4 linked regions of the Homo sapiens genome follow. The protein of the gene in region 1 interacts with the protein of each later gene in a biochemical or structural test. Each region holds a gene or a part of one and is shown on either strand. Other genes may lie near its edges. The genes, in order: PPP6C, TIPRL, ZNRF2 and MAP3K7.

Region 1 (7,028 bases):
CTGTAATCCCAGCTACTCAGGAGTCTGAGGCAAGAGAATCGCTTGAACCCGGGAGGCGGAGGTTGCAGTGAACCGAGATTGTGCCACTGCACTCCAGCCTGGGTGACAGAGTGATACTGTCTCAAAAAAAGAAAAAAAAGAAAAAAAAATGGTGGTTTTTTTTTTCAGGGAAAGTTTTTGAGAGAATGGCACAGCAGATTCTTGTAGATTTCCCTGGAATCAAAAATCTTGTTTGTATAAACATTTAATAGAAAAAATTTGTTTACGTGTATTTTATTTTTTTGTTAAAATCAAATTTCCAAATAATTCAGTATGTAACTCTTTATTGTAGTTATAAACTATATGTTTGTACAGTTTGATATAATTTGAAAAGAATATTGTGGCTATTGTATTGTTTGTAACTGTAAACTTTTACTTCACAGGGTGATTTTGTAGACAGAGGTTACTATAGTTTGGAGACCTTCACTTACCTTCTTGCATTAAAGGCTAAATGGCCTGATCGTATTACACTTTTGCGAGGAAATCATGAGAGTAGACAGATAACACAGGTCTATGGATTTTATGGTAAGAATTCCTATTTCTCTGATTCTGAATATTATTTTACTTTCCTCTTTGGAAAACAAAGCTACACAAGTCATACACATGCTTTATGTATATTATTTTCCCCACATCCTCACTCCTTCACTCCTCCCAAACAATTGAAAATCTTATGCTCGAGAGAAGACCACTGTTAACTTTTTGGTGTGCATCTTTCTAGATCTGTGCCTCAAAGTGTAGCTGGAATCACCTGGGTTCTCATTAAAAATGTAGATTGCCGGCCGGGTGGGGTGGCTCACACCTGTAATCTCAGCACTTTGGGAGGCTGAGGCAGGCGGATCACAAGATCAGGAGATCGAGACCATCCTGACCAATATGGTGAAACCCCTTCTCTTCTAAAAATACAAAAATGAGCTGAGCGTGGTGGTGTGTGCATGTAATCCCAGTTACTCGGGAGGCTGAGGCAGGAGAATTGCTTGAACCAAGGAGTCAGAGTTTGTGGTGAGCCGAGATCATGCCACAGCACTCCAGCCTGGCGACATAGGGAGACTCCGTCTCAAAAAAAAAAAAACCAAAAAAAAAAGGAGAATGCTGGGCCTCACCACAGATTTATTAATCAAAATATTTTGGAGTGGGAATCTAGAATCTGCTGAAGGTGAATGTTCTGCACAAATTTGAGAGTCCATTCTCATCCATTTTGTATGTGTGTGTGTGTGTTTATGTGTGTTTATATATGTACAAACACGTGCACACTAAAATGGGGACATACCTGATTTTTTCACTTTATTAATGTTATTTTCATGGCTGCTTCATATACCATATGGATGTAGCATAATTGATGTATCAGTTTTTCCTCTATCGTTGGACTTTAGAGTTGTTTTTAAGCTGCTGTTATACATCCTTTTACATATATCTCTGTATGCTCACTCCAGAGAATGCTAGGACCTCAGGGATCAGAAGCAGAACTTAGTCATAAACAGCAAAATAGGCCAGGCGCAGTGGCTCACCCCTGTAATCCCAGCACTTTGGGAGGCCGAGGCGGGCGGATCACCTGAGGTCAGGAGTTCGAGACCAGCCTGGCCAACTAAACCCTGTCTCTACTAAAAATACAAAAATTAGCCGGGCACTGGTAGGGGGAGGGGGGAGGGATAGCGTTAGGAGACATACCTAATGTAAATGACGAGTTAATGGGTGCAGCACACCAACATGACACATGTATACATATGTAAAAGACCGACACGTTGTGCACATGTACCCTAGAACTTAAAGTTTAATAATAAAAAAAATTTAGCCGGGCATGGTGGTGGGGGCCTGTAATCCCAGCTACTCAGGAGACTGAGGCAGGGAGAATTGATTGAACCCAGGAGGTGGAGGTTGCAGTGAGCCAAGATCGCTCCATTCCACTCCAGCCTGGGCAACTGAGCCAGACTCTGTCTCAAGAAAGGAAAAAAAGCAAACTAGCTAATTCTTTAAAACTTTTATTTGGTTGAAAGAGAGAGAGAGAGAGAGAGAGAGAGAGAGAGCGAGCTTATTAGGAAGCCCCTTCAGGGAAATAGAACTGTCAAGATTATGAATTTGGATTTTCCTTGAGCACAATTAAGACAGATATTGAGAGATTTGGAAACATTAATTGCAGAACCCTTTAGATTTAAATTTTATATTTTGAATTATCTTCTTTCATTATAAAGATAGGCTGGGCCAGGTGTGGTGGCTCATGCCTGTAATCCCAGTACTTTGGGAGGCTGAGGCAGGCAGATCACAAGGTCAGGAGATCGAGACCATCTTGGCCAACATGGTGAAACCCCGTCTCTACTTAAAATACAAAAATTAGCTGGGCATGGTGGCACTTGCCTGTAGTCCCAGCTATTCGGGAGGCTGAGGCAGGAGAATCCCTTGAACCCGGGAGGTGGAGGTTGCAGTGAGCCGAGATTGCACCATTGCACTCCAGCCTGGATGACAGTGAGGCTGTCTCAAAACGAAACAAAGCAAAGATAATCTGAACTCTCTTACTCTTCAGTTTGTCTGCCATTATCAATTAGAGAAATTTTGAGAATTTATTGTTTTTATATAATTTTTTTAATACGTGTAAAGTTAGGTAATATTTATCTCCTTTCTACAGGTGACTTTTTATTTTCATTCACAAAATAAACACCAATTGAAATACAACTTTTGGATTCTTTTGCAAAATAATCAATATTTTGGATAACATACTATGATATTAGCTCAGTGAAAACAGTACTAAAACTAATGTTATAAAAACACACACACCTACTATATATATGTAACTAATGCTACATGTATAATATATAAAATACATATTGTTATATATGGCTAATATATGACTTTTTTTTTTTTTTTTTTTTGAGACGGAGTCTCGCTCTGTCACCCAGGCTGGAGTGCAGTGGTGCGATCTTCGCTCACTGCAAGCTCTGCCTACTGGGTTCACGCCATTCTCCTGCCTCCGCCTCCCAAGTAGCTGGGACTACAGGCGCCCGCCACCATGCCCGGCTAATTTTTTTGTATTTTTTAGTAGAGACAGGGTTTCACCGTGTTAGCCAGGATGGTCTCAATCTCCTGACCTTGTGATCCGCCCGCCTCGGCCTCCCAAAGTGCTGGGATTACAGGCATGAGGCACTGCGTCCAGCCATATGACATATGTTTTGAATAAGATAATTTTAGTTATTATAGGACTTATATTGATTTTCAAGGAATAAAATATCCCTATATGACTTTACACTGGGACTTCAGTTCACACTGATAAACACATACTGGGCAGTTACTATTGAGCCAAGTTCAAGATCCCTGCCTGCAACCTGAGCTCATTGTTAGGGCTCTCTTATGGCAAGTTTACATAACAATCTTGCTTCACGTAGATATATAATTGAGAAAATCTTGGGGATTGGTCATAACCTGCAGACTTCTTTCCTATATCATTTTCAGCTTCACTTAAGGCAATAGTGATATGTCAGGTTTTTTTTTTTCTAAAATTATGGAAGAAGCCAAAGTACAGAGCTTCCATGGTGTTAACAAAAGAAGTGTGTACCCTATTAACTATGTAGACAGTCAGGGTACAGTGGCTCACATCTGTATTCTCAGCACTGTGGGAGGCTGAGGTAGGAGGATTGCTTGAGCTCAGGAGTTCAAGACCAGCCTGGACAACATAGGGAGATCCCCATCTCTACCAGAAATAAAATTAGCCAGGTGTGGTGGCACTTGCCTGTAGTTCCAGCTGTTCAGAAGGCTGAGGTGGTGGGATCGCTTGAACCCAAGTGGTTGAGGTTGCAGTGAGCTGTGATCGCGCCACTGCTGATTGTGCCACTGTATTCCAACTTGGGCAATAGAGTGAGACCTTGTCTCAAAAACAAAAAACTACGTAGGCAGCAGAAAGAGTGTTCAACTGAGAATTTGTAAGAACCTGATTGGCAATCTGTCCTCAGTTTTGATCCACTGAAGCTCAAGTGTTTAGTCGCACGATTTGCAGAAAATCTCAGAAGAGACAACTTAGCCCTGAGAAGAGTTAGGAATTGCTCATGCTCCTATAACTAAGGATCCTCTAATTTGTTTGATCTGTTTATCCTGCTAGAATTGTCTCCTTAAATAAATTTATCTGCTTACCAGAATTGCCTAATATTAACATAACTGTTAAAACATTTGCTTCAGGTTGTGTGAAATTAGTATTTAACTCTTCTAATGATAGCATTTTGGCTAATAATTTCAGCTGCTTCTTAGGTCCATTCCAGGAATGAAGAGCAGTACTACATCCTTAGGAAATACAGTCATGTGCCACATAATGACATTTCAGTCGATGATGGACTGTATATATGACAGTGGTCCCATAGATAAAACGGAGCTGAAAAATTCCTATTGCACAAATACTTACCATTGTGTTACTATTTCCTTATGATATTTAGTACAGTTACATGCTGCACAAATTTATAGCCTATGAGCAATAGGCTATATCATATTGCCTAGGTGTGTAGTAGGCTAGACCATCTAGGTTTATGTAAGGACATCCGATGATGTTCACACAACGATGAAATCACCTAACAATGCATTTTTTAGAATGTATCCCCATGGTTAAGGGACATACAACTGTATGTAGTTAGTCACTAGCGTTCTTTTGGCTCTATGTGGAGGTCCTAGCAGGACTAAATATGTGTCATATCTTGCTATCCTAGTTTAAGCTGAATTTCTGTTGTACTGAAGGCTGCTCTAGTATTGGATATATTGTTTATTTTTATTAGCAGATTCATTAATTAAAACCCTTCTGTTTCTTTCACAGATGAGTGCCAAACCAAATATGGAAATGCTAATGCCTGGAGATACTGTACCAAAGTTTTTGACATGCTCACAGTAGCAGCTGTAAGTTTCTATTTTTAAAGTCTCATGTACGTTCCTGCCAATAACACATTGCATATTTTTATCTAGTTGTCATCTCAATTATATTGATATCTTTAGTATTCACTGATGAGTTTAGATATGCCTGAGGTTATATGTTCAACTCTTTGTTATCCTTTTTTGCTAGTTAATAGATGAGCAGATTTTGTGTGTCCATGGTGGTTTATCTCCTGATATCAAAACACTGGATCAAATTCGAACCATCGAACGGAATCAGGAAATTCCTCATAAAGGAGCATTTTGTGATCTGGTTTGGTCAGATCCTGAAGATGTGGATACCTGGGCTATCAGTCCCCGAGGAGCAGGTTGGCTTTTTGGAGCAAAGGTCACAAATGAGGTAAAGCCAACATTTTTGGAAATGTAATTTGTGGATTGCTAATGGGCTGCATAGAGAACTATGGTGGCCCTAGATAACAAACTTGTAGTCTAGCTTACTCAAAATATGGTGGCTGTGGATATTAAATTTCTAGTTTAGTTATTAACGTATGTCTTTCTTTAATGGTTAAATAAGATGACACAGTGAAAGCACCTACTCCAGCATCCATTTGGTAATAATGTATAAAGTAAATGTTCTTTCCTTTTTTTTTTGTTTTTGAGATGGAGTCTTGCTCTGTCGCCTAGGCTGGAGTGCAGTGGCGTGATCTTGGCTCACTGCAACAACCTCTGCCTCCCAGGTTCAAGCCATTCTCCTGCCTCAGCCTCCTGAGTAGCTGGGACCACAGGTGTGCGCCACCATGCCTGGCTAATTTTTGTATTCTTAGTAGAGATGGGATTTCACCGTGTTGGCTAGGCTGGTCTTGAACTCCTGACCTCAGGTGATCCACCCGCCTCAGCCTCCCAAAGTGCTGGGATTATAGGTGTGAGCCACCGCACCCGGCCAGCCCCTTTCCTTTCAAGTACTGTAGTTAAGTAACAAAATGGCAAGACCAAGATAGGCAATACTTTTTTTTTTTTTTCTCAAAGACCTCAAATCACACAGATACAGACACTTTATTAGTTTCCTCTACAAGAGACAATAACATGAATCTTTTTTTTTTTGAGACAAGAGTTTCGCTCATGTTGCCCAGGCTGGAGTACAATGGTGCAATCTCGGCTCACTGCAACCTCTGCCTCCTGGATTCAAGCGATTCTCCTGTCTCAGCCTCCCGAGTAGCTGGGATTACAGGTGTACACCACCACGCCTGGCTAATTTTGTATTTTTAGTAGAGACGGGGTTTCACCATGTTGGTGAGGCTGGTCTTGAACTCCTGACCTCAGGTCATCTGCCCACCTTGGTCTCCCAAGGTGCTGGGATTACAGGCGTGAGCCACCGCGCCCAGCCTACGTCAAATCTTTTTTTTCTTTTTAACAGAAATCTCTGTTCATTTGAAAAGCCAAATAGATCCAAAGAAAGAAGATGAAAATTAAATACTTAAATTAATCAAAAGGCACTATGATACCACCTAAAACCTACTGCCACAGTGGTAGTAGGCTAAGGAAGATCAAGCTACAGCAAATCATGTAATGTGAATGTTAGCGATTACATAGCAGGAAGCACATTTGCTTTCCAGAAGACTACGGTACAGTGTTCATTTGGGCCCAAGAGGATCTTTGGCCAGGAAAGGATCAAGATGGATGAAGGTAAAGCCAAATCAAAGGAGTAGGTACAAAAGAGAATCCAAGCTACATAGTCAAGCAGATGATGATGGATCAGGCTTCTTCCTCCCAAGAAACATTTGCTGCGCTGTGCTGCCTCCCCCCTCAACCACCCCCCACCCCCTACCCCATGGCTGCTCAAGCCCAACTGCCTACTCCTGCCTTACAGGGTGCTCAGCCACCGGGACTAGGTTTGGGGTTGCCCAGGGCTCTTGCCATAATTTAGCATAGACCTTGGGGAGAACTGCTCACACATGGGTTGGCTTTGCTGCTGGTTGTTCTCAACAAAGAAAACCCTGAAGCATTCACATGCAGAGTAGTCTGAGCTTCTCCAGTCACAGTCAAACACCCCCACACAACATCCTCAAAAGTCTGAAATCTTGTAACAGCTGAGCTATAGTTAAAGCTGCAAGGCTCACAGAATCATCAAGGAAGCCAGAATGAGACAATGCAGATAG
Region 2 (7,266 bases), on another chromosome or scaffold:
GAACAGTATGGAGATTCCTTAAAAAACTAAAAATGGGCTGGGTGTGGTAAATCATGTCTGTAACCCCATCACTTTGGGAGGCTGAGGCAGGAGGATCACTGGAGCCCAGGAGTTCGAGACCAGCCTGGGCAACATAGCGAGATCTCATCTCTACAACAAATAATAATAATAATAAAATTAGCTGGGTACAGTGGTGCCTGTAGTCCCAGCTACTAGGGAAGCTGAAGTGGGAGGATTGCGGGAGCCAAGGGAGTCAAGGCTGCAGAGAGCTATGACCATGCCTCTGCACTTCAGCCTGGGCAATAGAGCTAGACCCTGTCTGTTAAAAAAAAAACAAAACAAAACCCAAAAAACCTAAAAATAGAAGTACCCTATGATCCAGCAGTCCTACTGCTAGGAATATACTCAAAAGAAAGGAAATCAGTATATTGAAGAGATACCTGCACTCCCGTGTTTGCTGCAGCACTATTCACAATAGCCAAGATTTGGAAGCAACTGGAGTGTACACTAACAGACGAATGGATAAAGAAAATGTAGTGCAGGCTGGGCGTGGTGGCTCACGCCTGTAATCCCAGTACTTTGGGAGGCCGAGGCAGGTGGATCACGAGGTCAGGAGCTTGAGACCAGCCTGGCCAAGATGGTGAAACCCCGTCTCTACTAAAAATACAAAAATTAGCTGGGCATGGTGGCATGAACCTGTAATCCCAGCTACTCGGGAGGCTGAGGCAGGAGAATCGCTTGAACCCAGGAGGCGGAGGTTGCAGTGAGCTGAGATTGCGCCACTGCACCACTCCAGCCTGGGCGACAGAGCTAGACTCTGTCTCAAAAAAAAAAAAAAAAAAGAAAGAAAATGTGGTACATACATGCAATGAAGGACTATTTGGCCACAAAAAAGAATGAGATCCTGTCATTTGCAACAACATGGATGGAACTGGAGGACACTATGTTAAGTGAAATAAGCCAGGCACAGAAAAACAAACTTTTCATGTTCTCTCTCATTTATGGGAGCTAAAAATTAAAACAATTGAACTCATGGAGATAGAGAGTAAAATGATGGTTACCAGAGGCTAGGAAGGGTAGTGGAGAGGGGCAGAAATGGTTAATGGGTACAAAAATATAGTTAGACAGAATGAATAAAATCTAGTATTTGATAGCACAATAGGGTGACTACAGGCAACAATAACTTATTGTACACATGTAATCCCAGCACTCTGGGAGGCCGAGGCGGGTGGATCACAAGGTCAGGAGTTCGATACCAGCCTGACCAACATGGTGAAACCCTGTCTCTACTAAAAATACAAAAGTTAGCCGGCCATGGTGGTGCGTGCCTGTAATCCCAGCTACTCAGGAGGCTGAGGCAGGAGAATCGCTTGAACCCAGGAGGCAGAGGTTGCAGTGAGCTGAGATCGCACCATTGCACTCCAGCCTGGGTAACAGAGCGAGACTCCATCTCAAAAAAAAAAAATTACTAAAAGATTATAACTGGAATGTTTGCAACACAAAAATATAATAAATGTCTAAGGTGATGGATATCCCATTTGCCCTGATGTGATTGTTACACATTGCATGCCTCTATCAAAATATCTCATATACCCCATAAATATGTCTATTATGTACCATAAAAATTAAAAATAAAAAAATTTTTAAATAAAAAGAAATTTTAGATAGAAAACAAAACCTAATCTTGGCCAAAGGAACCTCAGAAAAACCTTAAAAACTGAATTCCAGGCCAAGATGGGAAGAGAGGTTAGACACACCTCTATACCTTCTCCCTTTTAAAGTTTAGGCACAACTGACCAACATTAAGGTTAAACTAGAGATCATAAGACTGACAAAACACTCTGTGGCAATAAGATACCATATTATAAACAAGACCTAGGCTGGGCGCAGTGGCTCACGCCTGTAATCCCAGCACTTTGGGAGGCTGAGGCAGGCGGATCACGAGGTCAGGAGCTCGAGACCAGCTTGGCCAATATGGTGAAACCCCATCTCTACTAAAAATACAAAAATTAGCTGGCCGAGATGGCGCGTGCCTGTAGTCCCAGCTACTTGGGAGGCTGAGGCAGAAGAATCGCTTGAACTGGGGAGGTGGAGGTTGCAGTGAGCTGAGATCACGTCACTACACTCCAGCCTGGGTGACAGAGCGAGACTCCGTCTCAAAAAAAAAAATAAATACAAATAAACAAGACCTGCGAGCCAGGCGCGGTGGCTCACGCCTGTAATCCCAGCACTTTGGGAGGCCGAGGCAGGTGGATCATGAGGTCAGGAGTTCAAGACCAGCCTGACCAACATGATGAAACCCCGTCTCTACTAAAAATACAAACATTAGCCGGGCATGGTGTTGCATGCCTGAAATCCCAGCTACTTGGGAGGCTGAGGCAGGAGAATCGCTTGAACCTAGGAGGTGGAAGTTGCAGTGAACCGAGATGGGGCCTCTGCACTCCAGCCTGGGCGACAGAGCAAGACTCTGTCTCAAAACAAAACAAAACAAAACAAAACAAAAAAACTATGGCCATGCAAGGCAAGGATTAAGTCATGCCCTACAAACCATAAAATGTCGTTAAATGGTTTTTTATGTGCAATGGTATAATGTGCCTTACTTTCCAACCTGACTGGTGTAGAATCACATGACAGATAGCAGACTCCCTTTTCTTAAGCATTCCTTTCTACTGACTTCAAGTCTTTAGACAAAGCTTAACACTGTTTTTTGTTTGTTTGTTTGTTTGTTTTTGAGACAAGGTCTTACTCTGTCACCCAGGCTGGAGTGCAGTGGCACGATCTCGGCTCACTGCAACCTCTGCCTCTCAGGTTCAAGTGATTCTCCCACCTCAGCCTCCCTAGTAGCTGGGGTTACAGGCATCCACCACCGTGCTTGGCTAAGTTTTGTATTTTTAGTAGACACAGGTTTTCACAATATTGGCCAGGCTGGTCTTGAACTCCCGACCTCAGGTGGTCCACCCACCTTGGCCTCCCAAAGTGCTGGGATTACAGTCTTGAGCCACTGCACCTGGCCTGTGTTTTTATTTGTTTTTGAGACAGGGTCTCGCTCACCCAGGCATGAGTGCTGTGGCATGATCATGGCTCAATGCAGCCTCTGAGGCTCAAGAGATCCTCCCACCACAGCCTCTCAAGTGGCCTGGGACTACAGGCAGATACCATCATACACAGCTAATTAACACGGTTTGTAGAGATGAGGGCTTACTCTGGTGCCCACGCTGGTCTCAAATTCCTGGACTCAAGCAATCCTCTCACCTAGGCCTCCCAAGATGCTGGGATTATAGGCAGGAGCCACCTCGCCTGACTAAAGCTTAAATCTTTCAACAGATTGCCGATCAGAAAATCTTTGAATCCACCTATGATCTGTAAGCCTCTCCTTCAAGACATCCCACTTCCTTAGCCTGAACCAATGTATATCTTCCATATATTGACTTATTTTACCTGCAATTCCCAACTCCCTAAAATGTATAAAACAAAGAGTAATGCCACCGCTTCAGATGCTCTTTGTTAGGACCTCTTGGGACTATTCCCTGGGCCATGGTCACTCATATTGGTTCAGAATAAATCTCTTTAAAACCTTTTACAGAATTTGTTTTTTTTCCATTAACAAAATCATCTCATTTTGAGGCAACTGAAGCCTAAAATCGTTAGAGAAGCGCTTTGCCCAAGGATTCACACAATAGTGTTGCAAATGGAGATTTAGCACTAAGTCAGCTGTGTTGTTTTCACTATACTGGGTGCCTACATAGCAACTAGACCATGGAAAGTCTTCGCATATCTACGAGGATGCAATTTTTGATAGGAGTTGGTCATAGTCAAGAGTGGCTAGATGGCCACTTCTAAATCTTGTTGGTGCTGGATTTCCTAAACTCTGTGGGATTACTTCTTTTTTTGACCTCAAAACAGAAAAATTTCCTCTGTAACACGATTCACTAACACATGAGGTAATCACACTGCTTTGAGGTCTGTAAGGATCAAGTTGGAACCGTCATCCCCTTCCCTGGCAGTCCCTAAAATCCTTCGAGATGACGTCACCCAACGAGTTCAAGAGGGCGGTGCGTTCCTAACCACACCTTCTGCAACCCAAGTGCCGCCCCTCTGACTTTCTCCTTTTTCCTTTTTTCCGGAACGCCGGAACGTAAGACGTGGGTCACGCAACAAGAGCAACTAGTCCCGGAAGCAAAAAGCAAAGAGGCGGAGAAGAAGACGGGAAGCAGAGCCCGCGTCCGGGTCGGCCGGCAGGGGGCGGGGCCGGGCATGGTAACGGCTCGGAAGCCTAGGAGGCTGGGCCGGAGGGAGGCGGAGGAACCGGTGTTCGCCGCCGCCGCTGCTTCAGCTTATTCCTTGTGGCCTCTGCGGGTCCTGCCTCAGCCATGATGATCCACGGCTTCCAGAGCAGCCACCGGGATTTCTGCTTCGGGCCCTGGAAGCTGACGGCGTCCAAGACCCACATCATGAAGTCGGCGGATGTGGAGAAGTGAGGCTTCGGGGCACGGGGTCTGGGCGCTGGCCGGTTGCTGGCCCAGGGCGGGAGGCAGGGCGAACTCTGTGCAGCCCCTCCCCTTTTCCCTGAGGCGGAGGTTCGGTCCCTCCGGACCGGACCTTTGATTGACAACTTCGATAAATAATCCAGTCACACTTCCGGGCCCTTTGGTTGGGGATCGCCAGGCGCTGCTTTCGTCAACTGTCAATCCGCCTGGGTTTGAGTAGAGTGTGACTGTTCTGGTGGACTTTCCCCTCACCAAACGTCTCCTCCTGCCTCAGCCTGCACCACCTTTCTTTCTGGGTGGCTGTTGCCTGTTTTCTTAGGGGTTAATGACGGGGATGATTTATAAGTTTGGTTTCTGTCACGTCAGGTGCTGTGCCCGGCGCTTGAGATAGGAAATGTAAAAGACAACGTGCGCCTCAATTCACAGTCTCGTGAGAGAGACAGACAATTATATTACAGCGTGAATAAATGTAATGAAGATGTATACACGGAGTGATGTGAGGTCTTTTAGGGGCTCGAACCATCTGGGAAATTGGGATGCCTGAACTGAATCTTTATAAAACCGTTGCGGGGGGCGGTGGATAGGTACATGCCATCAGGTCAGGCAGAGTGAGTTGTGATGCGTTTTTGATGCCTGGGCTGAATCTTGACAAAATTTAGGGGAATCAGGGGACGCATGTAAAGCTGGGGGCTCAGGGAGAGTGAAAGCTGTGATGTGTTTAAAGAGCTGTGTCCGTGTGATTGGAGCGTGAGGTACCATAGGGGGTGTTGTGAGAGATGAGAGGTAGGCCCCAGGGGAATCAAGATACTGAGGGAATTTTTATGCCTGGCTAAGGAGTTTTCAATTTTATCTGACAACCACTGGGTGTAATTTTATCCAAAGGAGCTGCATTATCAGATGTACGCTCTGAAAGATTTCTCTGGAGGCCATGTTGAGGCTGGATTGCAGGTCCGCAGGGATGGGAAGGAGACCAGTTAGTAAGAGAAAAGATAGGTTTTAGAAGATTAAGTCCCTGGGATGGCCAGCTGATGGGAGGAGAAATAAAAAAGGAAGAGTCTATGCTGATGACAAGATCTCTGGCTTGGATTTTTGCATGTATCGTATGCCTTTGAACAAGATGAGAAGCACAGGAGGAGGAGAAGCAGATGGGGGCAGGGTGTTGGTTAGAGGATGAGTTTAGTTTATTGAAATGTGAGGTGGGTATAGGTCATAAAGTGAAGATGTGTAGTAGGCATTTAGATATATTTATCTTGGAGCTCAAAAAAGATAACGTCTGTGGGTTTAAGTTTGGGAATTATCTGCTTATATTTGGTACCTGGAGCTTTGGGAATGAATTAAGGTATCTAGAAGTCATCCAGAGGAAAAGGTCATAAAATAGAACCCTAAGTGAGTACTTGCATTTTAAGATTTGAGCAGAGGGAGTGACCAGGGAAGAGAGGAAAGTAATGAAACGATGTTTGCTTCCTAATTCAAGAAAATAAGTGGTAATATTCTAGTAGACTCACTGAAAAAAATTAGGAAAATACAGAAAAGAAAGGAAAAAAATTTCCCTTCATCCCACCAGAAATTGAATTACTTTTTTGAGTTTTTCCTCTCTATATCTTTCTTTTCTTTTTTTTTTATAACTTTTTTTTTTTTTTTGTATTTTTAGTAGAGACGGAGTTTCTGCATTTTGCTCAGGCTGGTCTCGAACTCCTGACCTCAGGTGATCTGTCCGCCTTGGCCCCCCAAAGTGCCGGGATTACAGGCATGAGCCACTGCGCCCAGCCTTGTATAACTTTTATTTATTTTTTATTTTGTTTTTTTGAGACAGAGACTCACTCTGTCGCCCAGGCTGGAGTGCAGTGGCACAGTCTCAGCTCACTGCAGCCTCCGCCTTCCAGGTTCAAGTGATTCTCCTGCCTTAGACTCCCTGGTAGCTGAGACTACAGGCGCGTGCCACCACGCCTGGCTAATTTTTGTATTTTTATTTATTTATTTATTTTTAATTTTCTTTTCTTTTCTTTTTTTCTTATTCTTTCTTTCTATTTTTATTTTGAGATGGAGTTTCACTTGTTGCCCAGGCTGGAGTGCAATGGCGCCATCTCGGCTCACTGTAACCTCCACCTCCTGGGTTCAAGCGATTCTCCTGCCCAGCCTCCCAAGTAGCTGGGATTACAGGCATGCATCACCACGCCCAGCTAATTTTGTATTTTTAGTAGAGATGGGGTTTCACCATGTTGGTCAGGCTGGTCTTGAGCTCCTGACCTCAGATGATCCACCTGCCCTCGGCCTCCCAAAGTGCTGGGATTACAGGCATAAGCCACCGCACCCGGCCTCCTCTCCATATAACTTTCTGTGACAAATTGCCGATTGGTGCAAAAGTAATTGCGGTTTTTAATTGCAAAACCGCAATTACTTTTGCACCAACATAATACAATATATAATTATATTATATATAAAGCAGTCAGCTTCAAACTGGGGCCCCCATGTAATTTACTTACAGATTCTCTAAGCGATGGCTGTATACATGGAGAGTTTTAAGGGAATAAAATTCCATATCTACGATCTCCTTATGTATTATTTTAAAAACAAATTTGCCTGAGGCCGGGTGCGGTGACTCACTCCTGTAATCCCAGCACTTTGGGAGGCTGAGGCAGGCGGATCACCTGAGGTCAGGAGTTCAAGACCTGCCTGGACAACATGGTGTAACCCCGCCTCTACTAGAAATACAAAAAAAATTATCTGGGGGTGGTGGTGCAGGCCTGTAATCCCAGCTACTCTGAAGGCTGAGGCACGA
Region 3 (7,028 bases), on another chromosome or scaffold:
TACTTTTGACCTTTCTGCTTAAGCTCTTTACTGCTGGCCAATATAGTCTCTCACTGTTTCTTAATCATATTTCCAAAAAAAAAAAAAATTGATTGGCCTATGCCATCTTTTTGTTCCACTTCTGATTTGTGCCTAGCCAAACTATAAGTTGGCTATCTGGGTTCAGGTTTCCAAACAGCTTAGTGGTGTCAGGGGAGGGAGCAGTAGGACAGCAGGGGAACATGGTATATCTGAGGACTGTCTTAGCAGCAAGAAGGCAGGGATGGGACACTTCACCTTGGTAAGTGAGGGGGCAGAACAGAGCTGAATACATCAAATAGTCCCTATTTTATTATGCTAGTTTATTTTTAATGGAGTACTTCAGGCAAATACTTAGTAGTGCAGATTGAATAATGTAGGAAACTAGCTAATTTTTAAGTGTCAAAAATTGACTGCAAAAACCTGTACCCCGATCTGATGCTAGTTTCTGTTTTCATTATGACTTCAGTGCCATGGTGTGGCAGAAAGACCATTAAAGTAGAAGTCAGGAGTCTTAGATTCTAGACCTGTTTTTGCTGTTCTGAAAGGCTTCACGTTCTGCATCAGATAAAATTTTAAGGTTATTGAGGTAGAATAGTGTCTAAGGTGCTGTTTAGCTATAAAACTTGTGACTCACAGTGTACTATACCAAGTTGGTAAAGGTAATTTCCACAAGAGTAGTCAGATTACAAAGCTTGTAATAACATGAAATCATGAGTACAGGTTAATGTAAAAAATTAAAAACGAGAATACCTGGACCAGTACATCAGAGAGAGATACAGGAGTTTGTAGTGGACTGCATCCCTCTCATTTTAACTTGTTTTGTTTGATGAGGAGATCATCTTCATAAACTGATACAAAAGTCAGATATTATAATCACAAAATTTTCCTGACTTGAGTTGCACATAAACAGTGTAATGCAGTAAGTGTAATATTGAAGTTTCAAACGCTTTTTGATTTTCCATGCTTTTTAAAAGCCATAGCTGGATATTCAGAATAGTTAAGTAACTTGAGTTTCTTTTGTTTTTTAGGATTTAAGTGCCCTGTATGCTCAAAATTTGTATCCTCAGATGAAATGGATTTGCATCTTGTAATGTGTTTAACAAAGCCACGAATAACCTATAATGGTAAGTCCAATGGTTTAAAATAATATTTTAAGTTAGAATTAACTTACATTTTATGAATTTCATGTTTCAAGTATAATTTAAAAGGAGGGAAGGACATTGTTTTCTCTATTTTTACTAGTGCATTAATGCAGTGGTTCTCAAATTCTGTGATCTCAAGACTTCTTTACACTTCAAAAAATTACTGAGGACTTCAAAGAGTTTTTCTTTACTTGGGTTATATCTATCCATATTTGTCATAAATTAAAACAGAATTTATAATTTTTAATTTATTTTGTTAAACATAAATATAATTATGTTGACAACTTTTAAATGAAAAGTAAATTTTCTAAGACAAAATATTTAGTGACAAGAGTGGCATTTTCAGGATTTTTACAAACTCTTTAATATCAGGCTTCATGACAAGGAATTCTCACATCTGCTTCTTCATTCAGTTTATTGTGATATGGCACGTCTTGTGTCCTCTGGAAAACTCTGCTGCTATACTGGAGAGAATGGGAATGAAAAAGGCAGATATGGCCAGGCACAGTGGCTCACACCTGTAATCCCAGCACTTTGGGAGGCCGAGGTAGGCAGATCACCTGAGATCCCAAGTTTGAGACCAGCCTGGCCAACATGGTGAAACCCCATCTCTACTAAAAGAAAAAAAAAAAGAAAAAAAAAAATTAGCTGGGTGTGGTGGTGCACACCTGAAATCCTAGCTACTCGGGAGGCTGAGGCAGGAGAATCGCTTGAACCCAGGAGGCGAAAGTTGTAGTGAGCCGAGATTGTGCCACTGCACTCCAGCCTTGGAGACAGAGTGAGACTCTGTCTCAAAAAAAAAAAGAAAAAAAAACAAAAACAAACAAACAAAAAAACAGATACTTAGTGTTACCATGAAAATAGTTTTTACTTTGTTAATCTAAAAGGATTTCAAAGGCTCTTCCACTTCTCCTACTGTACAAGATTCTTTGGACCACAGTTTGAGAACTGCTGCATTGAAATAAAATCTTTTGGGTTAAGCCTAAGTAAAATGTAATGTTCATAATGGCCATTTTCAAAAGTAAGTAAGCATGGTTGAAATTGCAACTTTTTTCTTTTTGTTTAAGAGTATAGAGTAAATGAAGGGAACATATATGAGGAGTAGGGAGAATAAAAGTTTATTCAATAGTAAATAGATGCCTAATGGGAGAAAAAAGTCATTAAGAGAAACCCAAAACTCTACCTATGCAGTGCATATGTGTCTCTGTCTTTCCTCCCATATACAAATTTAGTCTGTGAGCTCTGGAGCGAACTGGTATTTTTTTAGGTCTGGTGTTTTAGACTGTACCATTCTTTCCTGACCAAAATCTCTAGATATTCCAAAACCTAGGAAAGATTTTAAATGTAGCCTTGGCATACTTTGGAATAGACTTGGGGGGGAAAAATCAAGTAGTTCTGTCCTAACCAATGAATAGAATAAAATGAAGGAAAAATGAAAGTTGTTTTCAAAATTTTATAAAGAAACAGACTTCAAAAGCTTAAGAGAAATTTCATTTTTTTTAAATATAAATTTTGGCCTGAAATAAAATGTGTAGAAAGGGTACCAGTAAACACTATAGCCAATTGAAAGATTGGCTAAATTCAACATATATTTTGAGCATCAATTATGTGCGAGGTACTGTGTTAGGAATTAGAGATATAGCAGTGAATGAACAGAAATGGAGCTTACAGCCTACTAATAGTAATAGTCACTGATTTCTTTGAGCTAAGAATTATTGGTTAAATAAAAAGGTTCTATGAAAAACTTAGTAGATATAGCAGCACTTATCTGAGCTTTCTCCTCAGGTAACAAAAATGTTGGGAGGGGTAGAATTTAACATTGAAATGAGCATATTACTTTTGGTAGTGTTTTGCAAGTTGATCTAAGAATCAGTCTCTCAATTCTTCCCTTTCCTTCACTTTTTCTAGTATGGTGGTGCTTCAGCCACCCTATTACAGGGTTGACAATAGAGCACTTTTTGCCATTCATTTGCTGATGAAATGTGAAAGTGGTTTTAAGCAGTTACTTGGCATAATAAATGTATTTGTTGATTATATCCTAACCTTTTTGCATTATGAAATTGAATTGGCTACTTTGCATTATCTACTTCAAGTTTAGTTATTTAAGAAATAGAAAGTGTTCTCATTCAAAATTTGTGACTAAAAGTATATGGGTTTGTTTTTCATACCTGCTCCACTATCTTATATTCTATAATTGTTTATGTTTAATATGAGTGCCTTTAAATATCCATAAATCTTAAAGCTTCTGGCTTTCAATTTGAAAATCACAAATATATTTGACCATATAATAATATATTTACACACAGTCTTAGTATTCTGTATGTTTACTTTTTGTGTAATATATCTAGAATACAGTCTTCTTGTGTATTGTGATATTTAACAATTTTTTTAACTTTTAAGTTGAGGGGTACATGTGCAGGTTTGTTATATAGGTAAACTTGTGTCATGGGGGTTTGTTCTACAGATATTTTGTTACTCAGGTATTAAGCCTAGTACTCATTAGTTATTTTTTCTGATCCTCTCCTTCCTCCTACTCTCCACCCTCTGGTAGGCTCCAATGTGTATTGTTCCCCTCTTTGTGTCCATGTGCTCTCATCATTTAGCTCCCACTTACAAGTGAGAACGTGCGGAATTTGCTTTTCTGTTCCTGTGTGAGTTTGCTGAGGATAATGGCCTCCAGCTCCATCCATGTTTCCACAGAGGACATGATCTTCTTTTTTATGGCTGTGTAGTATTCACACGGTATATATGGACCCACATTTTCTTTATCCAGTCTATCATTTGATGGGCATTTAGGTTGATTCCATGTCTTTGCTCTTGTGAACAGTGCTGCAGTGAACATATGCATGCATGTGTCTTATAACACAAGGATTTATATTCCTTTAGGTGTATACCCAGTAGTGGGATTGATGGGTCAAATGGTATTTCTGTTTTTAGGTCTTTGAGGAATTGCCATACTGTCTTCCACAATGGTTGAACTAATTTACACTCCCACCAACAGTGTGTTAAGTGTTCCTTTTTCTCTGCAGCCTCTCCAACATGTATTTTTTTTTGACTTTTTAATAATACGCATTCTGACGCTTGAAATGGTATCTCCTTGTGGTTTTGATTTGCATTTCTCTAATGATCAGTGATGTTGAGCTTTTTTTCATATGATTCTTGGCCACATTTATGTCTTCTTTTGAAAAGTGTTCATCTCCTTTGCACATTTTTTCATGGGGTTGTTTGCTTTTTTCTTGTAAATTTGTTTAAGTTCCTTATATATGCTGGATATTAAACCTTTGTCAGATGCTTCGTTTGCAAAAATTTTCTCCCATTCTGTAGGTTGTCTGTTCACTTTGTTGATAGTTTCCTTTGCTGTGCAGAAGCTCTTTAGTTTAATTAGATCCCATTTGTCAATTTTTGGTTTTGTTGCAATTGCTTTTGGTGCCTTTGTCATGAAATCTTTGCCTGTTCTTATGTCTATAATGGTATTGCATAAGTTGTCTTCCAGGGTTTTTATAGTTTTGGATTTTACATTTAAGTCTTTAATTCATCTGGACTTAATTTTTGTATGTGGTTTAAGGAGGTTGGCGTGGGGTAGGGGTCCAGTTTCAATCTTCTGCATATGGCTAGCTAGTTATCCCAGCACCATTTATTGAATAGGGAATCCTTTCCCCATTGCTTGTTTTTGGTCAGGTTTGGATATTTGACAGTTCTTAATTTCCTGATTTAACTATGCCTAAGTCATTAAACTGTTCTGCTAGATCACTTGTTTGGTGTCTTAAGAACTAATATATAACCTTCTGCTTGGGGATACTATAACAACCAAATATTTCGAATTTTAAATATTTAACAGTATTTCAATCTAGAAATTAATAAATTTCATGCAATAAGTAAATAAACTTGTAGGCATTCTTAAAGTTGCTGACTGAAAGCTTTAAAAAATAAAAATATATATATTTTTGTTTTTAGAGTCAGGATCTTGCTGTGTTGCCCGGGCTGGAGCTCAGTGGCTATCTATAGGCACAGTCATGGCACACGACAGCCTCAAACTCCTGGGCACAAGTGATCCTCCTACCTCAGCCTCCTAAGTAGCTAGGACTACAGGTGCATGCCACCATGCCTGGCTTTTATTTTTTATTTTGTAGAGATAAAAAATTCAAAGTATGTATTAATTGTATAAACATTCACAGCAAGAAGCAAATACAGCTTCTTAATAAAAACCGTGTATAGTTTTTGAGGTTTTAAAACTAGCTCTTGGACAGTGGCCAGTTATGAGTAAGTGAAGGAGAAAGGAGCTTTGCCTGGACTGATTTGGAGGGTTACAGAGAGGTGGCAGGTTAATAATGTACTTTCCTATCATAGGCAAGGGGAATTCTAATGCCACCTGGTTTTAAAGTCAGACCCCCCCCAAAATGTCTGTCACAGGTGATGAGTCCAAATGGAAATTGGCTCCTTTAATACCTCATAAGCAAACCATCTAGGATTATTATAAAGTAGAACAAGGTAAAGCCAGAGAATCTCTAAAACTGAATCTTTTTAGTCAACTGGATTCCTCACAATTTTATATTTGAATTCCTACATGTTGATTCCATAGAGAGATACATCAGATACATTGGGCCTCTGAATTGTGTTAGTGCTCAAACAAGAACATTTTTTTCAGCATACTGTTCATTTAACTTACACTTTTGCAGCCTTTTCCAAAGTAGCTAGATCTGAAATTTTGAAATTTATTTGTTAAGTGAATGTTAACTGTCTATAAACATTCATAGTTATAACACAAGAATAGTGGGGCTTGTTTTCTTCAGACTGGATATATTTATATAGATAAGCTCCTGAATTGGATGAGTTCCAGAAATTCAAATATAAGTTGATGATTTAGAGTTTCAGACTCTTTGTCACAGAGATGATATTTGAAATATTGGTTTTTCAGACTAGCTCACCAAAACCTTCTTATTTTTTTAAATGCACAATATATCTGAACACCCACATCCTGGTACCTGAAGAAGAAATTGGCTGACTAGGTAGAAACTCTCAGGGATTGGGCAGCTGGCTCGGCAGAGATCCCAATGGGACGCCCAAGGCTGTCAGGGCAGGGAAGGATTTTGAATGATGTGGGTGGTATTATCTATTGCAGATGGTATTTTGGCAGCTTGAAAAAATTAAGAATGCCACAGTGAGTATTCAACAACATAGATTACCTTCATGTGAAGGACTGCCTGTTTCATATACTTTTCCCTCTTTCATGTGCTTCATTGTTGAGTTTATGGACCTAATAATTCCTTGTATAGTCTATGAATCTAATACAAATTTTATGAGTATAGAGGCTCTCTTCATTTCCTTGCTCCTTCTAGGATATTTCAGACAAGCCAACAAATTAAATATTATTAGCAAATTCTTAGTTTTTTTAAAAAATTTTATTATGTGTACATAATAGTACATTTATAGGGGTCCATGTGATATTCAGATACAAATGTACAATGTGTAATGATCAAATCAGGATAATTGGGACATCCATCACTTCAAGCATTTATAATTTCTTTGTATTAGGTACATACCAGTTCTGCTTTTCTAGTTATTTTGAAATACACAATAAATTATTGTTAACTATAGTTGTCCTGTTGTGCTTCCAAGCACTAGGTCTTATTCCTTTTATCTGAAGGTATTTTTGTACCCATTAATCAAACCCTCTTTATATCCCCCTTCCCCAGTACCCTTCCCAGCCTCTGGTAACCATCATTCTTCTCTCTGTCTCCATGAGATCAGTTTTGTTTTGTTTTGTTTTTTAAGCTCCCACATAATGAGTGAAAATATGCTATAGTTGTCTTTCTGTGCCTGGCTTATTTCACTTAACATAATGTCCTCCAGTTCCATCCATGTTGT
Region 4 (7,028 bases), on another chromosome or scaffold:
ACACAATCCTTGGACTTTTTTTCTGCTCCCAGAATACCACGCAACACTGATGTATTAAGCTTAATTCTAAAATACATATCAGATACAGGGTGCTGATATAATGAGATATATAATGTATCAGTGATTTAAGAAAGAATAATAGGAATGGAAATCTTAAATTGAAACTTTTTCAAGACACTTAAATTTTTCTAGTAAATCAGGAGGAAATCAGTCATTTTTAATCAGTTTTAGTTTTGTGGAAAGCAGTGTTTATGTGGGAGCGTAGTTTGAAACCACTGTTGGGGTGGGAGAAGAGTTGGTCAGAGAAATAACAAATTAAGTATATTTCTTGTTTAGCCACTTCAGAAAAACACACATTTATGTTAGTACTGTATATGAGCCTTAAGGGTAAGGGTAAGTGCCTTAAGTCTCTACTGTTTTTCTGTATTGCCCTGCAATATTTAATAAACATTACTTTTTCAATATGGAATTCATACTATACTATTTTAAATTGTTCTTTCTAATTCTCCATTTAGTATGAATAATAATGATAACTACCGTCATGTATTGAGTGCTTAATATACGCCAGGATTTGCATGGTGTTCCTCACATGCACTGGCTCATTTGGTCTGATTTCGCTAATTAGCTTTTGGAGTTTCTTGAGAGCACGTTCTCAGTGGCTTTAAAAAAACAAAAACAAAAGCAAAAAGAAAAAAAAACACCTGGATTATCAGTTGACAATAAATTAGAAGATTACTGAGCCAGCAACCCTTCTTGAGTTTTTTTGGATTGCATACAGTGCGTCTGCTGTCTTCCTGACTTGCCTTTATCCACACCACTCCTTCAAGGAGTTATTCGTCAGAAAAAGGCTGAAGAGCTCACTCATTTAGCTCTTTTTTTGTCTACTAACAGTGGGAAAGCAACTACTTCTGAAGTAGAAAAGTCTGTATTGCTTCAGAGTTACTCTGTTTACTTCTGGAACTGTTCTACATAACCATAAATGTTGAGAAGAGACTGTCCCACGCATCTCAGTCAAGTTGTATGGCAGTTTTACCTCTTTTGAAATATAAACAAAAGCATTCTATTCAAATAATTTTATAAAATTGACTGATTGTTTGAATTAATCAACTTAACTGTTTTCGGCATGACATTGAGCCACAGGTTTCAACCTCATTTTGGTTCCTTACTGTTCGTATTTGTAATATACTCTCATCACCAACATCTCGTTTTCTGCAGTGATTCTTACTGGGAAGGGCAGGATGAGTGGTGGAGGTCACATTATAATCTATATAAATTGAAAATGATCCACTGGAAGAGAATGTGTCTCTGCTTTCTCCCTTTCCCTGTTAAGGAACATTGATATTAGCGGAGTTGATATAGCCTTCTATAAAATAAACTTAGCATGATAAAGAAAAGAGATGGGGAGTTTGATTAGATAGGGTCAATTAAGACTGAATTTAAAATATAAAGGTCTCATCACTGTTTTTGTTTTTAATTAAGAGCTTAGAAGCTCTAATATATTGTGTTCTATTCAGTTTATAGCCAACTTAAATTATAGGTATGAGAATATAATTGCATTCTAATATCTGATAATTGAATATCCTTTTTTTAACCTTTAGAATTCAGAAATAGACTCTTCAATTACCAATAGCTGTAACTTTTAATTTACATATTATTTACTTTAGGGAAAAAAAGCATTTCATTCATGCTTTCTTGCTGTTCGTTTATAATTATTTGTGACAGAAAATCAATAAAATACATGCTTGAATTCCAGATACCAATGGATCAGATAACTCCATCCCAATGGCTTATCTTACACTGGATCACCAACTACAGGTAAAGGAGTACTTTCTTATTGAAAGTTGACTTTTTTCTTCTTAGAGAGTTTAAGTTGACAATTGTGTTGCTACCTGTCATTGTATAGTCACTCCTTAATTTATCCTTTTAGTTGGCCTCCTTAAACTTTTTAGAATCAAATCAAAATAATTCTTTTGGTTAAGTTAATCAAACTTTAAATTGGCAGAATCATATTCTTATCTTTTCAGTCATCTTAAAATCCTCCAGTATCTTTCTTTAGTACTGCTAAGCATTACATTTTCACTCTTTAATTTTAGTGCATTAAAACAAAACTCATAAGCTTATTTCTATTTAATACATTTGTGATACATTCTCATGTTCATAGTGACTGAAAATGTAAATAATATACTTCAGTGCCCCCTCATGAGTATGAGGGCTATAAACATCATTTAGTTTGAGCCTGTTTGCAGCCTGAAATGTCATACCAGAGACTACAACTCCAACAATCATGATTCTCTGTAACAGACTGTTAAAACAGCAAGAATAGATTTAAATGCTGAGTTAATTCTGACAAAAGGACACTGAGATTTTCTAGGGCATGGTTTAACACTTATTTTTAAAAGATCATTGCTTTAGTGCTATAAAAATATATCACAGTCTCTGTCTTGACTCTCATCTTAGCTAGATATTGAAATTTGATTTAATTATGTTTTAACATTCCTGATTATTTTCAGCCTCTAGCACCGTGCCCAAACTCCAAAGAATCTATGGCAGTGTTTGAACAGCATTGTAAAATGGCACAAGAATATATGAAAGTTCAAACAGAAATTGCATTGTTATTACAGAGAAAGTAAGTTATTTTTTATGAATAAAAATAAAAATACATTAGTATTTTGAGTTTAAAATATGATAAGGTGCAATGAAAACGTAGTTTTTAGAATTAGTCATTAAGTATACTTTCAACTTGTTTAAGCTTTAAGCACCCTTTTACTAAAAATTTTTTATGCAAAACTCAATCCTTTTGACTATCATATTAGTGCTATGGAAAATAAACTGGTGCTTTATACTTGTTGTTTTATGTTCTCAGAGCTGTTTAGACTTATTATTATAAAGATTTATTGTTTTCTTGTAAATAGATAAAATAATTTGATTTATTAACATTCAGTTGTGCCTTATCTTAGAAACATTTTTGTAGATACATTTTTTCCAGGTGTATGTTTAGAATTGGATTACTTATTAAAAGACTGTATTTCATAACTGAGTGTTTTTCTGAGGAGTTATAGAAACTGCCTTCCTCCCTTTTTAAAGAAACACAGCCTAATTTCCTTACTACTGCATTCACAGTTCTTAAATATGTATGTATCTTCAGTTTTCTTAAGCATGACCTCCATGAAATTTTATACTTAGGTAACTGAATTGTTGGTGGTAACTAAAATGAAGTGATAAGGAAAAAATTTTGGCAACTTTATATATGTATGATAATAGGATTCCCTTCATTAATTTTAATCTAAATAAATGAAAGTTGTTTTTTTCTGAATTTGCGAAAAGCTTTCTGTATGTACTTCAAAAAAAAGAGAGAAAAAATTGTTTTATCATAATTTATTGATACAGTGATTTAAATGGAACCAACCTGGTATTTGAAAGGTAAGCCTAAATAGGAAATTAAATACTACAGTTTGGAAATCGTAGAAGTAATTATCAAACTGCTGGCACTTTTATGTTGAAAAAGCTTGATTTCTTATTTCACTTATTTAACCTATACTTTTGCCATACTTTAATCATTTGAAAGAAGTATTCTATGCTGGAAAAAACAAATGGTGGATTAGGGTGTTGGCTGTGAAAACTATGACAGTTTTAATCAATTTTAAATACTTTCAGAAGTAGTATTAGTTAGTTATTTTGCTTGAGGACTTTTTATTAATTATTCATTTATATCCAGTAACCTCACTTTAGGAAATGCCTAAAGATGCATCTTTTTCGGGAATACTTAATAGTTCCCAAATAAGAGGGACTTAAATAAGTTTATCAGACTATAAAAGAATGAGGGTCTTTCCTGAAAGTGCTTGCAAATGTAAGTGTTTTAAAAGAAGTGGTACTTTGTCATTTTTCTCACTGCTTTAAAATGGGAAAAAGCTTTAAATTGGATAGCATTTATTTTAATTAGATTGCAAATTTGCTATTAGCTTACCACTCTCTGCTATAGTTAAGTAGGATTGTGACTTCAGAATGTGAATCAGTATAAAAGTAGAATGTGAAGGATAAAAACTTCATGATATTTTCCCATAGCCACATAGAACCCTTCCCAGCCTTTTTTCATCCTTCCTACACAAAAAGAGGATAGAAAATGAAATTTTCTGAAACTTTTATTTTACCATTTTATCTGCTTCGCTAATTATCCAAGTACAGTTACTTAATAAAAGGATTATGTTATTTGTATGATTACACTAGAAGTAGATGAGAGTTCCATCCCAGCCCATAATTATATTTGATTAGTGTACCTAAGATGCAAAATGATAAACCAAGAATAAAAATTCTCATTAATTGAGCTTCCATCATCAGCTACTAAGGTATGAATTTTTCCATCATGTGTAATATTATGTGGTATTTGTTTGTAGGCAAGAACTAGTTGCAGAACTGGACCAGGATGAAAAGGACCAGCAAAATACATCTCGCCTGGTACAGGAACATAAAAAGCTTTTAGATGAAAACAAAAGCCTTTCTACTTACTACCAGCAATGCAAAAAACAACTAGAGGTCATCAGAAGTCAGCAGCAGAAACGACAAGGCACTTCATGATTCTCTGGGACCGTTACATTTTGAAATATGCAAAGAAAGACTTTTTTTTTAAGGAAAGGAAAACCTTATAATGACGATTCATGAGTGTTAGCTTTTTGGCGTGTTCTGAATGCCAACTGCCTATATTTGCTGCATTTTTTTCATTGTTTATTTTCCTTTTCTCATGGTGGACATACAATTTTACTGTTTCATTGCATAACATGGTAGCATCTGTGACTTGAATGAGCAGCACTTTGCAACTTCAAAACAGATGCAGTGAACTGTGGCTGTATATGCATGCTCATTGTGTGAAGGCTAGCCTAACAGAACAGGAGGTATCAAACTAGCTGCTATGTGCAAACAGCGTCCATTTTTTCATATTAGAGGTGGAACCTCAAGAATGACTTTATTCTTGTATCTCATCTCAAAATATTAATAATTTTTTTCCCAAAAGATGGTATATACCAAGTTAAAGACAGGGTATTATAAATTTAGAGTGATTGGTGGTATATTACGGAAATACGGAACCTTTAGGGATAGTTCCGTGTAAGGGCTTTGATGCCAGCATCCTTGGATCAGTACTGAACTCAGTTCCATCCGTAAAATATGTAAAGGTAAGTGGCAGCTGCTCTATTTAATGAAAGCAGTTTTACCGGATTTTGTTAGACTAAAATTTGATTGTGATACATTGAACAAAATGGAACTCATTTTTTTTTAAGGAGTAAAGATTTTTAATTCTGTGATTGTGTGTATGTGTGTTGAAACTGTAAAGCTTTTATGACTCTAATATTAATCTCTTAAATGAAATTAAAAGGCAAAAGAACATGATTGAGCTTAAATGATCATTTCTTCCTGCAGTGATTCTTGGATTGTTTTCTCATGTATTTGAAAAAAAAAAAATGAAGAAAAATAATGGAAAATGGAAGTAATTACTCCAGCTAAAAAAAGCTTGGACTTAGATTTCTTTTTATGATACCAAATGAGAAATAAACCAGGCAAATCAGAAGGAAGTTAAAGAAGCAAATATAAATTCAACAAGTGTCCTAATTATCCTGGATATTGGAATATTTGATTTTCCTTACAATCCCGTTCTAGAATGCCTGCCGCCTTTCAACACTTTCAAGAGAATTTCAACACTTACAGAGTATTTATATTGTTAACAGTAATTTTGCTACCAAAACCTTCAGAATAACTTTAATAATAAAATGACACTGAAATAATAGACTATACAAACTCTATATTTTTTCAGTTGGTGTTAAAATAAGTCACATTTTGATACCAGTACAAGATGTCTTTTAAATAAGGATGTCATCAGTCTGATTTTTATAGCATTAATGTTTTATGAAGAAAAAGTTCAAAATGAAAGCATTAATTGCTGTGATTATTAGAATTCTATCATGACTGTATTGTAGTTTTTGCTCTATTTCAGATAAGCAAGATCTAAGAAGTTATCAAAACTATTCTTTAAAATGCTAAAGCAGGTAACTTTTTCTTCCATTATTTTTTCCTCCTACCACTGAGTTTTGTAATGAATTCCTTGTGTATACAAGCAATACAGGTGAATACTAAACTGTTATTTTTAGCTTCTTCAAAAGCTATTTTAGAAAGCTTCCTGGAAATAAATGTCTTCTGTCATTTAATTTAAATAAAAGGAGTGTTAATTGTTCCCAAATTTGATTACCTAGCTGAAACAGATATTGGATTCAGCATAGTAATAGTAAAATAAAATTGGCAGAGAAAATAACTGTAGACTAGGATAAAGCATGACTCCTCCATAGCATTGTTGCTTGTATGTACATCTGTCACTCCACTGAAAGGGACCTAGTCACTTTAAAGAGGCCTTTTATCTCAGCACGAGATATCCAAGCGTGAATGCTAAGGCTTGATGTTTCCATTAGGATTTAGCATTCGAGATTTCAGATTTTATTTATAGTCATTGATGTGTTTTGCTGTATTATAACACATTTAAGGGAAATTTTATTATGGTTTTTACATGTAGTCATTTCATAAAAATATCCAGATAGGTAAATGGAAGAAAATAGTAGATTTTAGTCATGGTACCAAATGCAAGAGGCTGTTGAACAGTTGCTTGTTTGTTTACAGTAAGTTCCTTGAGATTTTCAGTACTGTAGTTGCCCTGGACATTGAGTACAGTTCAGCCTTACTCTGTTTTTAAGTAGTTGTGTTGTCAATTTCATGCTTTTAAGTCCTGATGATCCTTGGAGATGGGAGAAAAAGATACCAGGGATAATTAAAATCCACAGCCAGTTTCATCAGTTTCCTCATCCATCCTGCAAATAAAAATGTTAACAAGGAGCCAAACTTATTCGTTCTGGTTTTACAATTTATTTTGACCGTTTTTTGGGTGAAAATTGCAAACAGCCAAGCAAGTGGCTGGAATGCCCCAGTCTAAGAAATTCAAAAACAATCACTGAGTAAGCCCTAATTACATTAATTACATTTTACTCTTGACTCCA

What was found.
Region 2: the proteins of PPP6C (region 1) and TIPRL form a complex in vitro, tested with the Homo sapiens proteins (one study listed by BioGRID).
Region 3: of the proteins of PPP6C (region 1) and ZNRF2, one has a biochemical effect on the other in vitro, tested with the Homo sapiens proteins (one study listed by BioGRID).
Region 4: of the proteins of PPP6C (region 1) and MAP3K7, one has a biochemical effect on the other in vitro, tested with the Homo sapiens proteins (one study listed by IntAct).

What each region holds. Positions count from the first base shown.
Region 1 is NC_000009.12:125,151,777-125,158,804, reverse strand, and holds part of PPP6C (serine/threonine-protein phosphatase 6 catalytic subunit), read left to right. Parts: intron 1-422; coding exon 423-564; intron 565-4,819; coding exon 4,820-4,899; intron 4,900-5,062; coding exon 5,063-5,272; intron 5,273-7,028.
Region 2 is NC_000001.11:168,174,708-168,181,973, forward strand, and holds the start of TIPRL (TIP41-like protein), read left to right. Parts: upstream 1-4,254; 5' UTR 4,255-4,370; coding exon 4,371-4,474; intron 4,475-7,266. UniProt on the Homo sapiens protein: May be a allosteric regulator of serine/threonine-protein phosphatase 2A (PP2A). Isoform 1 inhibits catalytic activity of the PP2A(D) core complex in vitro. The PP2A(C):TIPRL complex does not show phosphatase activity.
Region 3 is NC_000007.14:30,322,593-30,329,620, forward strand, and holds part of ZNRF2 (E3 ubiquitin-protein ligase ZNRF2), read left to right. Parts: intron 1-1,049; coding exon 1,050-1,145; intron 1,146-7,028. UniProt on the Homo sapiens protein: E3 ubiquitin-protein ligase that plays a role in the establishment and maintenance of neuronal transmission and plasticity. Ubiquitinates the Na(+)/K(+) ATPase alpha-1 subunit/ATP1A1 and thereby influences its endocytosis and/or degradation.
Region 4 is NC_000006.12:90,514,045-90,521,072, reverse strand, and holds part of MAP3K7 (mitogen-activated protein kinase kinase kinase 7), read left to right. Parts: intron 1-1,753; coding exon 1,754-1,815; intron 1,816-2,510; coding exon 2,511-2,626; intron 2,627-4,391; coding exon 4,392-4,572; 3' UTR 4,573-7,028. UniProt on the Homo sapiens protein: Serine/threonine kinase which acts as an essential component of the MAP kinase signal transduction pathway. Plays an important role in the cascades of cellular responses evoked by changes in the environment.